4 separate regions of the Homo sapiens genome follow, and all the other regions are reported to be linked to region 1. Evidence: microRNA targets listed by miRTarBase, many of them from high-throughput screens and not tested one by one. Region 1 holds a microRNA gene; each other region holds the end of a gene's coding sequence.
The links. Region 1 holds the annotated microRNA hsa-miR-2278 (GAGAGCAGUGUGUGUUGCCUGG, at 2,037-2,058, opposite strand). A microRNA usually pairs through its seed, bases 2 to 8, with sites in the 3' UTR of a target mRNA and lowers its output. Matches are read on the target gene's strand: a 7mer-m8 pairs with bases 2 to 8, a 7mer-A1 pairs with bases 2 to 7 and ends in A, and an 8mer does both.

Region 2: miRTarBase lists AXIN2 as a target of hsa-miR-2278. Seed matches in the 3' UTR shown: 7mer-m8 at 2,220-2,226.
Region 3: miRTarBase lists VPS4A as a target of hsa-miR-2278. Seed matches in the 3' UTR shown: 7mer-m8 at 654-660, 7mer-m8 at 1,995-2,001 and 7mer-A1 at 2,704-2,710.
Region 4: miRTarBase lists GRAMD1B as a target of hsa-miR-2278. Seed matches in the 3' UTR shown: 7mer-m8 at 1,269-1,275.

Annotation. Positions count from the first base shown.
Region 1 is chr9:94,808,960-94,812,034 of GRCh38, reverse strand. It overlaps MIR2278 (microRNA 2278), which reads right to left and starts at 2,073; the gene lies at 1,978-2,073. All of the region lies in intron 5 of AOPEP (aminopeptidase O (putative)), which reads right to left.
Region 2 is chr17:65,527,113-65,530,187 of GRCh38, forward strand. It overlaps AXIN2 (axin 2), which reads right to left. Exons shown (of 11, transcript NM_004655.4): 11 at 1,451-2,990. The coding sequence ends at 2,864. Among named protein-coding and RNA genes, the nearest start is that of AXIN2, 33 kb to the right of the region's middle. RefSeq lists enhancers at 799-1,093, 2,916-3,075.
Region 3 is chr16:69,323,863-69,326,937 of GRCh38, forward strand. It overlaps VPS4A (vacuolar protein sorting 4 homolog A), which reads left to right. Exons shown (of 11, transcript NM_013245.3): 11 at 346-3,075. The coding sequence ends at 447. COG8 (component of oligomeric golgi complex 8) reads right to left here. Exons shown (of 6, transcript NM_032382.5): 6 at 2,566-3,075. It overlaps PDF (peptide deformylase, mitochondrial), which reads right to left. Exons shown (of 2, transcript NM_022341.2): 2 at 3,051-3,075. Among named protein-coding and RNA genes, the nearest start is that of PDF, 5.2 kb to the right of the region's middle.
Region 4 is chr11:123,622,097-123,625,162 of GRCh38, reverse strand. It overlaps GRAMD1B (GRAM domain containing 1B), which reads right to left. Exons shown (of 20, transcript NM_001387025.1): 20 at 1-2,657. The coding sequence ends at 2,568. Among named protein-coding and RNA genes, the nearest start is that of SCN3B, 31 kb to the left of the region's middle.

The DNA.
Region 1 (3,075 bases):
TGTTCCCTGGATAAGGGACCATCAATTGTACTCTCAAATAACTTGAAACTATCGAAGTGTTGGTAGGCAGGAGGATGAATCCAATAGGTTCCTTTCATCTGTCCATTTATTCTCCTCACCCCAACTTGCCAGCACAAGCATGTGTGGCCTTTGAGGGTACGGGAGACACTCCAAGTTTAAACAGGTAAAATTCAGAGAGATGAACCTGGACCATCGGAAAGGTTAGAATAATCCTAAGAAGTTCTCCCCAGACAACACTTAAGCTGAGGAGATGCCGCCTCTGGGGGCTGCACCTGAGTGGTTACCGGGACAGGCACAGGGGCCTGGGCAGGCTTTCTGGGTGCAATTTCCTGCAGTGGCCTGGAGACTGGGGCCCAGTCCCCTACCAGGCAGTGCACCCTGCTGAGCTCTGGGACCCAGCATCTCCTGGTTGCTTACAGCTCTGCAAGGAGATATCAAAGCCAGGATAAATGGTTTGAAGCCAAAGTGGTGGTGGGGGGCAGCTGTGGTAGAGAAGGGATTGCTGATGGGGAGTGGAGAGAGCCCAGACGGAAGAGGTCTGGGGGCAGGGAGGGAAAGGCCAAGGGAGAAGAGAAATCAGAATTAAATGAAAACAGGGTTTGTAGCTGCGCCCCTCTCAGTAAAGTTCTGCCATGCATGCATTAACCTTCCATCAATGAAAACAAAATCCAGGGACCTCATGCCTGCCTGCTGGGGCATATAAAGCCTAGGGGACATAATATCTTCCAGGTGGGTGTGCCCAGAAGCACACATTGGTACTTGACAAGTCATTTAAAACTGACTGTCAAGGTCAAAACAACACCACCTGCAGGCACAACTGAAATGTCTTCATCCATTCCCCCGCTCTGAGTTCTCTGTTGTTGTTGTTTTAAACTAAAACACAGTTTGAGCAGCAGACAAGCCTGACAACTGTTCAAACATATGTATGTGCAACTTATTAGCTTGCAAATGGAGATATCTGGAAGCTAAAGACATGTGACAGGGGTAGGGGGCAGGTTAGCCACTGACTCTGAGGGGTCAAAGGAGGAGGTCCTTTGATGGGCTGAAGGAAGAAGGCCTTCAGTGATGGAACCCACTCCTGATGGAGTATTTGAAAATGATGCTTTTCACTGATGACACACAAAACAGAGGCAGTTATTATGAAAAGAAGGGGCCCCTGCCCTTGAGATCTGTTTATTTTGCAATTAACAAGGGTTAAAGAGGCCCCCTTCTGAAACTTTTGCTTGGGGGCCTAAAATTTAAACACCTACTACTGCCTAGGTGCCCACAGAGTCCAAGAAAATCCAAGCCTCATGATCTAACTAGCTCTTACATCAAAAAGAAAATATACATGTATTTTAAATTGCTGAACGAAACTGAATCACCCCCATGCCTTGTTGAAATAAAAAACCTGATTAAAGGCCAGGCGCAGTGGCTGACGCCTGTAATCCCAGCACTTTGGGGGGCTGAGGTGGGTGGATCATTTGAGGTGAGGAGTTCAAGACCAGCTTGGCCAACATGGTGAAACCTCATCTCTATTAAAAATACAAAAACGAGCCAGGTGTGGTGGCGCGCACCTGTAATCTCATCTACTCGGGAGGCTGAGGCAGGAGAATCGCTTGAACCTGGGAGGTAGAGTATGCAATGATCCGAGATTGCGCCACTGCACTACAGCCTGGGTGACAGAGCGAGACTCTGTCTCAAAAAAAAAAAAACAAAAAAACCCTGATTAAATCAAATGTAGGGGCCCTAAGACATTCTGCGGGTTATTCTAAATCACCCCCTTACTTTTCCAGAGAAGAAAATTAGGCCAGGGAGGCCCAGTGACTTGCCCAAAGTCCCCGCCTGTGACTGGATGCAGTTCCTAGGAAGCACGGCCTCCTTCTGAGCAACAGAAAAGCAGGAAGCCTCACCAGGGAGCTTTCTCACCCATTCACCGGCACGCTCCAGCCTCTTCCTGACCTTCTTACCTGTGACATGACGGCAGGGTCTGGAGTCAGTGCAAGCTGTCTGGGTGATACCAGTCCACACAGTCCCCAGGCAACACACACTGCTCTCCAACACCTGCAGCACAATCAGCTGGGAAGACCTGTTAGCCTTCCAGATACCAAGACTGCGGCTCAATTCACTGAGTCAGTCTCCAGGGTAGGGCCCAGGCAGCTGAAGGGAGCCCAGGGCACGTGCCAATTCTTTGGGATAAAAGTGACAGAATTTACTTTCATAATTGTTTTTTTCTCATCCTTTTACATTTTCTATTTTGTGTATGTGTTTTATAGTGTACCTAATATATTAACATTGTACTAAATGCATATAACTTATAAATAAATAAATATAGATATATGAATTGGGTAATTGCTCAAAAAGAGGTCTATAAACAGAAAAGCATGGGGGCCTCCTGCACCAAACTGTGAGTCCCAAGAGGGCAGGACCTGTGCTTCCTCACTGCTGTAAAGCAAAGCCCTTGCCCAGGGCCTGACGCATGCAGGTCAGGTCCTCACTCACCACTGACAGAATGAAAGGCGAATTCCATCTCCAGCTGTATCATGGACTCCCAGATATTTCTGAATAGAATCATCTCCCAAAGTGTGTTTTGAGGAGGTGGTTTTTTTGAAACCACAGTGGTTCCATGAAATGCTCACTGTAAAAAGGGCTCCCTCGACACAACAGTTGGGGGAATACTGCTTATCCTGTCTCTGTCTTCAAGATGCACAGATATACCAGGATATTAAATCAGGATCATAAGAATATTAAAGGCTTTCTTAGAAGCCCTCCAGTAAAGAATCTCTTTTAAGTTTATTTAATCCATTTATTTCCTAAACTAATTAACCTACAGTTCCTTTTCCCACATTATTAACATTCCATAAAACTAGTCTTCCTTGAAACCAACTTTAGAAACTCCCAATTTAGATTTAGGCTAAAGGTCTATACTTCCTCATGGCCACAGCATCATCAGCATTCATCACACCTGTCCGTTGATACATGTTTGTCGAGTGAGTTCTTGGCTTTGTCCATCCACCCCTTTCCAACTGCGCTTTCAATAGGATGTTCTAAGATTGCACATCTATGAAAAAAGGC
Region 2 (3,075 bases), not on the chromosome of region 1:
AAAAAAAAAAAAAAAAAAAAAGAATGAAAACAGGAGATAGAAACATGAGTGATCAACTAGTCCAGTTCTCTCTCACAAATGCACCTTAGAAGATGCCAGAAACCCGCTCATGGCACCCAGAGGGTGGTGGTGCTGGGCCTTCAGTCCAGTTTGTCTGAGGCCCAAGCCCCAACCTCATCACTCTCCTCAATCAAGAGGCCTGAAGATAGAGATGAAAAGCCATCCACAAACCCCAATCTTCACCACACACAATAGGTTGCATCTCTTCATCCTTTTGTCTTGGAAAGAAGTTTACAATTCGGAAAGTGTTGGACACCCTGGTATGAACCCCCATTCCAGCCAGGAGGGGAGGGCACAGCACCTGCATGGTTAGGGACAAGTTCAAGGCATCAGAGCTCCTCCAGCCTCTTGCCAGATGCCCTCACATCCTCGCCTTCTCAGAGGGTAACTCAGGACTCTCCCAGCAGCCTTGACAACTCCTACTACTGCCACCACTCCGAGGCTACTGGGTTCGAGTCCATCCCTACCCCGCATGGCCAGAACCCTGGCCTTTCTCTATGCTGCCGGCCTGACGCCAGTTGGCAGCAGGAAGAACAAGCCAAGCAGATCCACTGCAGACCACCGAGTTCATTTCATGAAAACTCAGCACACAAGAAGTCAAGTCCAACTGCAGTTACAGATCCTCTGTTTTTAAAAAGGGTTCTTCCTAGGACTCCACTAAAAAGACCTGCTTTCCCAGATCTAAAGTATGGCCTGGCATGCAGGCCAAGTGCTCAGGATACAGGGAGGGCACGTTTGTTGAGCGGGCAACTGCCTGCCGAGGTCCTTGGCCACATAAGCACACCTGTCCACCGAGCGGTGCAGAAGCTGCCTGTGTCGCCTCCTCCTGAACCACCTCCTTGCTATGTTCCCGACACCTGACCGGCCCTGAGCCTGATGGCTCACGATAAAATACTGATAGGATTAATAGTCAGCCTTGTTGATCAGCTCCCAGAATGGGGAGGGTGCCTGGCTAGCTTTGATCTCTAAGTCCATTGGCCCCACGTGGACATTCCAGGTCTATGAAACCATCTGCTGAACGGCTTTCATGTCGGAGACACCTGTTGAAACTCCTGGGAGGGCCTCCTCTCATCCCCTGGTCCCCTGCACCTACCTGGCCGGACTGGAGACAATCTGCCCAGGAGGAAGAGGCTGAATGGAGGTGTTACAGGGAAGAGGACCCCCAAAGGAGATGTCATCTACAGCCTGCTCCAAGGCAAGAAAAGCCTCAGCCAGTAGCCAGGTGATTTGAATAAATGGCTTTACAAAACCTCCAGGTGGGTCCAGATCAGGTCAGGGCTCAAGGTCAGAGACGGGCTTGGGCAAGGTAGGAAATCAAGCACAGATGTCTACACACAAAAGGGCCCCTCGGCCCTGTTCCCACCCTGGGGATTCAAAGACGAGGCCAGTGTTTTGAAAAATATAAAATTTTAATAAAGGCTACATCTCTTAATTACAATAATTATTGTACCAAGTAATTTTCCTTAAATGAACTCTTTATAATGCATAATTTACAGTATAAGTAGAACAAAATGTCATGACAAAAGTCATTGAGTACAAGACTTGTAATAAAAAGGCATAAAATATATTTATACATAAACCCCTTTCAAAAAACAAGGGAAAGCTTGAGCCCTCAATATAGGGCGACACACGGAGCGGGTGACCGTGCAGGTACAGGTACTGTACTGATTTAAAGTCAAGCACTAGAGATAGTGGATTAATACTCTTTTGCCGTACACTATATACAGATGTATAGTACAAGTAACAATGGCAAACAGAATGTACAGATTAACTTAACACAAAAACCCGAACATCAAAATGAAGGTGTGTGGAGGAAAGGTGCTGCTGGGTCTCCCTACAACTGTTCATTTCTTTGTGGGGCAGGGGGTAGTTCCTGAATGGCTGTGGTCCAATGACTAATGTAAAACAAAAACAGAAACAAAAAAAACAAGGAACTGTCATTTCCACGAAAGCACAGCGGCAGTGATTCTAGCAGGCCTCAGGGCCCTGGGCCTGGGGAGGCTACATGAGGGGGAGCCTCAGTCACAGGATCAACCTGGGGCCCGAAGGAGCAGGGTTCCCTGCCTCTCCCTCTGCAACAGATCATCCCATCCAACACAACCCCCAAAATGTTGATGATGACGCAACATGGTCAACCCTCAAGACCTTTAAGACAAAACAGAGCAGCATAGGAAAAAAAAAAACAAAACGCACCAATTTCTGCATGTGTCAATGGTAGGGCACCATTTTAAAAAGTCTGTCTAAAACAGTCTGTCTTCACTTGGAGGGACGTAGTGCAAAGCATAATTCCTCTGTTAGTGAAGAAACCATGAACGCACTCCTAGCTCAACTCCTAAGTTTAGTCAGAACAATTAAAACTTCCTGTCTCCCCCTTCCAAGTTTAAAGCAGCATATCCATAAACTGGGGATGGGGGAAATCAACTGTTCTATAAATATCAGTAAGGATTCCTGTTCAGGTAAGCTATACACAGTTTCTCTTAGTTTATGGATTTCAGATCCCTAGGAAGTCATATATTATGTATGGCAGTCTCTCAAATACAGGCAGCATCTTCAATAGCCAAGAGTGGTCATGTTTTTAATAAATAGTTCAGGCTTTTCTTATCTCAGTCAGTACCCAGCTCATGAATCATGAAAATCAACCTCCCCCCGCCCTCCCGAAGGCCCACTGGCCGATTCTTCCTTAGACTTTGTCTTCTTCATTGGTTTAATTTTCCTTCAAAATGTTTTGTCGCAGTTGCTCACAGCCAAGACAGTTCACAAGAGCTTCGGGCTCCAACAGTTCACCAAAGCCAGACCCCAGGGCTCAATCGATCCGCTCCACTTTGCCCAGAATCCGGCCTTCATACATCGGGAGCACCGTCTCATCCTCCCAGATCTCCTCAAACACCGCTCCACAGGCAAACTCATCGCTTGCTTTTTTGAAGTAATACCTTAAAAGGAAAACCAAAAAAGCTTCTTGGTAAACTGCATTTTCCACATTGTTGAAAAGAAAAGCATACCAACATGGAGGACTGA
Region 3 (3,075 bases), not on the chromosome of region 1:
TCACTTGAACCGAGGAGGTGGAGGTTGCGGTGAGCCGAGATCATGCCACTGCACTCCAGCCTGGGTGACAGACTCCGTCTCCAAAAAAAAAAAAAAAAAAAAAGAAAGCAAGTTCGTAAGGGGAGTTATGAGATGATGGAGCTTAGATTCTCAGACCAGGAGGAGGCCCATCTGAGCTGCCTCGAGAGGGAAGAGGGTCCCTGCCATAGGCAGATTCAAGCAGGCCTCTGGGGTGGCCTTGAAGGCAAACCTCTTCCCACCCTCAGCTGCGCCTGTTGTGTGCTGAGGGGAGGTTGGGGACCTGGAGCCTGGCTCCTGCTCAGGCACATACTGTTGCCTTCACAGTCGGACATGCTGCGGTCTCTGGCCACCACCCGGCCCACGGTGAATGCAGACGACCTCCTGAAAGTGAAGAAATTCTCAGAGGACTTTGGGCAAGAGAGTTAAAAGCTGCTTCACTTGGGCAATGGTGAAGGTGGGAGGTTGATTGGGGCAAATCCAGGCACTCCCCATGTCAACAGCCAGACAGGGCTCCAGGGCTTGTCCCAGTCAATACAGAGTTCCCTCTGCTGTCTGGCCGTCTGCCAGGGAGCCAGAAGGAAGGGCCTTGCAGCCACAGAGACACTCCACTGCCCTGGGGCACACAGTGGACACTGCTCTTCCTACTTCCTCCTCTCCTGGATGCTCATCAGCTCCTTCTGCCTCCCCCCCTTTTTTTTCCATCTTTTGTTCCCCTAAATTAATGCTGCTTGGATTTTCATCTTATTTATAAAGATAAAATCACCTGGAAGTGTCAAGGAGTGGGGCGGGGTGGCGGGGGAGAAGCAGCCGTGCTGCCAGGTCACCCAGACCTCCAGACAGCCGGCTAGCCCCACTGCCCGTTCCTTTTACGCCCAAGTTTTGCTCCTTGAGAGCAGATTGGCTGATGCCCCTGCAACCCCAGCCCAAGCTCTGCCTCAAAGACCGAGTGACATAAGCCATTCCCACCCTCCTAGGTTCACATCCAGGGCTGTGTCTTCCTTGGGGGAGGAGATGGTGTCGTTTAGATCAGGGTAAGGCAGTCAGGCGGGTGTTCACCACTGCCTTTTCTTCCTCTGAGCGTGAGAACACTGAACCCAGCCACTGCCCCTGGGTCCCTGTCCTGGAAATGGTCTAATAAATCCTTTTCCCTTCTTGAGCTACCCAAGTGATCTCATCTTTCCTTGACTCTTAACTGAGACTCTGAAGGGCCACCCTTGCTTCCAATTAAAAGACCCTCTGGTTTTCTGTCTCCTCTCTTTTCTAAAGCAGAGCAGGAAACAGAACACTGCAGTTCTTAGGCCTGTTCTCCAGTCAGGTGTGCAAGGCCTCCTCCCCTTAAGGCCTCAGAAGTTTGGCTGGGGATGTTTGTGGGATCCAGACAGTTCTTGCCGTTGTTCGGCCTACAGATCAGAGACTGCAAAGTGGGAGCCCTGCGTACCAGACCCGTCCTGCAGCTGTGTTTGTTTGGTTTGGTCTGCCGCTAACATTTAAAAGTCGAGAGTTGCTGGGCGCGGTGGCTCACGCCTGTAATCCCAGCACTTTGGGCCGCTAACATTTAAAAGTCGAGAGTTGCTGGGCGCGGTGGCTCACGCCTGTAATCCCAGCACTTTGGGAGGCCGACGCGGGCGGATCACAAGGTCAGGAAATCGAGAACATCCTGGCTAACACAGTGAAACCCCGTCTCACTAAAAATAAAAAAATTAGCCGGGCGTGGTGGTGGGCGCCTGCAGTCCCAGCTACTTGGGAGGCTGAGGCAGGAGAATGGCGTGAACCCGGGGGACGGAGCTTGCAGTGAGCCGAGATCGCGCCACTGCACTCCAGCCTGGGCGACAGAGCAAGACTCTGTCTCAAAAAAAAAAAAAAAGTCGAGAGTTGACATAAAAATTCAGAATTCTGACTTCTAGAAGATTAAATTAGGTAATGTTGGGCCTGCGTCCTCATGGGGCAGCCTGTCAGCGGCCACTAAGTAGAGGCTGCTCTGTACAGAAGGGGTCCCCCATCCCCACTCATCTGTGTTGCCTGCCCAGATAGCCCCATGGCCATTTCAGTTTGCGACCCCCAACAGACCAAGGACCCAGAGCTGGCAGCCCTGGACCCACGTCCGGCAGGCAGTGAAGCTGCAGAGGCTGTCCCACGTTTACCCCATGCATATAAACAGACCAAAGTCAAAGCACATTCACACAGAAAGACCTGGCCTAGTAAATGAAGCTTATAGCCTGCAAAGGGCTTTGTTCCAACCTTCCCTCTCCAAAACCCAGTACTGCTCCTCTACCTTTCAAACCTGGTTGGGCCAGAACTGATTACATGGCCAACTCTTGGCTCACACTGGGCTTGCACTGGGCCATTTCTTTGCTCTGGTTCAGAGCCTCTGCAGAAGTGAGCTAACTTTGGATCAGTAGCTCCAACACTTGGCTCCAGTGCTGGCAGGTTACCCCTCAACCATAGCAGCTGGGATCTTTGTGGCTTGGGGGTGCTTGTGTAAGTTCTTGGTTATGTGCCCTCAGCCACCAGGATATGAACCGTGTCTGCAGAGCTTCACTTTAGTGAGCTTACAAGTTTTTAAATTTTTACTTCTAGTTACATTTACTTGAATCAGAACGTTGTTTCCTCATTCCTACTGCTTAAACACCTTGACAAGTCCTAGGGGTTAACAAAGGTTAGCATGGCTATGGTCCATCCCTGTGCTCTAGTTAGAGCGTGAAGACACCTGACTTTCCAGTTGTCTCTCTCCATGACCAGCAACAGGAACCACTGACGCTGAACTTTGGACAGTGGCCTCAGACTCTGGCTGCCAGCACACAACCTGCCATCATCGATGTTAAACATGCTGACATGTGCAGAGGAGTTTCCTCCCTGAAATGCTCTGAAATTCACTTCTCTGCCTGGGGATTCTGTTATAAACCTTCTGCCTACATTGGCTTTCACTGTGGAAGTTGATTTCTAAAACTCTGATGAGCTCACAACGTTGACATGTATATGCGTTTTTTGTGAGTGCTTCCTGCTCAAAGTGGGAGAGATTTTACTGGAAATGCAATAAAGTTTGCATTTTATTGC
Region 4 (3,066 bases), not on the chromosome of region 1:
TATCTGCAAGGGTGAGTTAAGATGTCTTTCGCAAGCTATTGACTAAGGGGGAAGAGATTTTGTTTGGGAATGAATAGAGTTGTTGGTTTTTTCCTGGTATGATAGTCAAAAAATTATTGGAACACAGAGAGCCTACAAGAGATCCATGATTCTTAAAGGACATTCCCTATGTGCACACATTGTCTAGTGGGTTCAAATCGCTAAAAAACCAGGAGGGCTCTTCTGACATACTCAGTACTGCCCTCTCTGCCACCTTTTCCTCCTGGGAATGGTCCTGAGAGGTAAAGCAGAAGCAGAACAACTCCCTGCGGCCAGGTCTGCTCTGTCACTTGACTCCCAACAAAGAACCCTTTTTAAGTCATCCCAAAGGTCCCACCGTGGCACCTTTAATAATTAAATAACTTAAGGAAATAATTATGTATGGAATAAATTCAGGAATCTACAAGTTTTGCATTCAAAACTTTCTGGGAATAGTTTTGGCTTCTGGCTGTGCCAAGGGGGAGATTTCCAGCAGTCTGCACCATGCCTCCTTCTTTGGCTCAGAGCCCATGAGCCTTGATCCCTACCAGTGTCCCTCACCCAAAGGCCTGGACAAGAACTGAACAAGGACCCACTGGGCTGTGGGCATAGGCACTCTTCACAGGGATTACATGAAACTGCATTTCCTCCCATCTCCTCTTCTAGGGGAGGAATATCCACTCTAGCTCATGCCCTGGAGCCTCCTCACCCTCCTCCCTTGGAGGATCACCTGGGCATGGACCTTCCTGTTTTCTGATCCTGCCCTTAGGGAAATACCAAGGCCTTATTCTCACATGGAAAAGTCAAAAACTGTAATTGCCACAGGGAATTAAAGGCCATTCTAAGAAAAAAATACAACTTTATCTTTGGGGTAGATGAGTGATAAAATCTTCTGTCTTTTGGGCTGATGTTCTGGGACATCTGGGACATCTGGGGTTTCTTCTGCCCCTGTGTCAAGAAGCCCAGGAGAAGAATAAGCAAGACTGAAGACCTCTGCATGCCAAACTGGCTATGACTCTTTCATGAATCTCCACAAGCTCTGCCTGGAGCTGGTGGGACTCTTTTGGTCATTACATGAAGAAACAGTAGTTAGTGTATGAGGGATGATGAATGTGCCCAGAGGGCCCCGTGAATTCAGATAAATGCATGGTGCTAGTGGGCCAATGCTGAAAAGGCCCTGAATGTCTCACTCTTTGAAGCTAGTGCCTTCTACTTCTTAATGATCTTACACCTCTGTGGGGCCAGAGACCAGAGCAGGATTTGTACTCCAACCCCCGCCAGAACCCCCATTGCCAAGTCTGAGAAACTCAGGATTGGGAATGGCTCCCGTAGGGCATAGATTTCACTTGGCCTTTTCCTGCCCAAACACATGCACCTTTGCCAAATCCTTCCCTCCAGTGGCTCAGATGCTTTTTCTATGTGCAAACTGTCTCAGACAGTCGTCTCCACTGGCTAATGTTGGTTCGTTCAAAGAGCAAATGAGGCTGGCAACCCATCTTGGTGCTCACCACTCACAGTGTTCTGTGGGTAGACCCTGCACCCCGGACGTGGCAAGGGCCTTCTCTCCCTCTCTCAAATCCTGGAGGGCCCAGCACACCCTGACTCATCCTGGAAATCACACTGACAGCTCTAAGTGAAGGCCTCAGAGCCACAGACCTGACTTGCTTAGAAGCACTAAAAGAGGTTTAATAAGGTCGAAAACGCTCCACCCTGGCTAATAAACAATGTGCTCTTAGGGCACAGAGAAACAATAGGACTTTAGGCACTAAAAAGTGACACTTCGCCCAGATCCAGCCTGGGAGAAGACCAGAGAGAAAGCGGGTGGGAAAGTAAGAAATTCCCAGCCCTTACTGGGTCCACACCCTACACAGGTCGGAGGAAGGTGCAGGGGTGATGGAGGAGAGTATCCTTCAGAACACGAGTCTCGGGAGCCTGCCACCACACAATGCAGCCTTCCTAGCTTTCCAAGCATCCTCTCCATCTGACACTCAGTACGGTCTGGATCAAGTGGGCGGCCAACCCTAGGAGTTTAGACTGGGCTCCCTTGATGCTTCTGTGTTCCCAAGAGAATGCCTGGGGAAGCCTGGGGTAGGGAAGAAAAGATTCTCTTTTATTTTGGAAACAAATCAAAAGGGGATTAGGGAATGAAGCACCTTAAGCAATGCCGTCTTAAGACTTCTTTTTGAGACCTTAGGGTCTTCGCAGGCATAACTTTGGCTCAACATTTCCCTTCTAAAAGCCAAGAATGGCCAGCAAGGGAAGGGGTGGGGAACAGAGGGTGGGAGGAGGGAGATCAGGGGAGGTCGGTGCTGAGAGGCGGTTCCTGCCCTCCTCAGCTGCTCCACCATAAGAAAACGCTGCTCCGGCCAGCACAGGGCGCGGGAGGGCCCGCTCCTTCTCCCTGGTACATAGGCATTATCTCTTTTTTAAAATCTGTATATAATATATATATTTATATTCTGTATATATATATATTTATATATATATATTTATATGGTCTATGTACATGTATTGCACAGGCCTCTTGCAGCCACCCTGTTCCTGCCTTGTCAATGATAGCGATTCCTCTTTTCTTCACTTTCCGACGTGTAGTCGCGGGACCTGATGCCGTTCTGAAGGTTGATGAGCGAGTCCTTCATCTGCAAGACAGAAAACCCCACCCCAGGCCTGGGTCTGCGCTTTTAGTGGGATTCTCCACCGAGCAGCCCTCTCCCCACACCCGCCTAGGGCAGGCCTCCAACCACGCCATGGGGCTGAAAAGAGTCGGGCACCTAAAGCAAGGGTGGTTCTCAACACTGTTTCAAACAGAAAGGGGACAGTCAGGCTGGGTGCAGTGACGCACACCTGTAATCCCAGCACTTTGGGAGGCAGAGGTGGGAGGATCACTTGAGGCCAGGAGTTTCAGACCAACCTGGGCAACACAGAGAGACCCCATCTCTATAAAAAATTTAAAAATTATAGCCAGGCTTTGTGATATGCACCTGTAGTCCTAACTACTCAGGAGGCTGGGGTGGGAGGATGGCTTGAACCCGGGAGTTTGCAACTGCA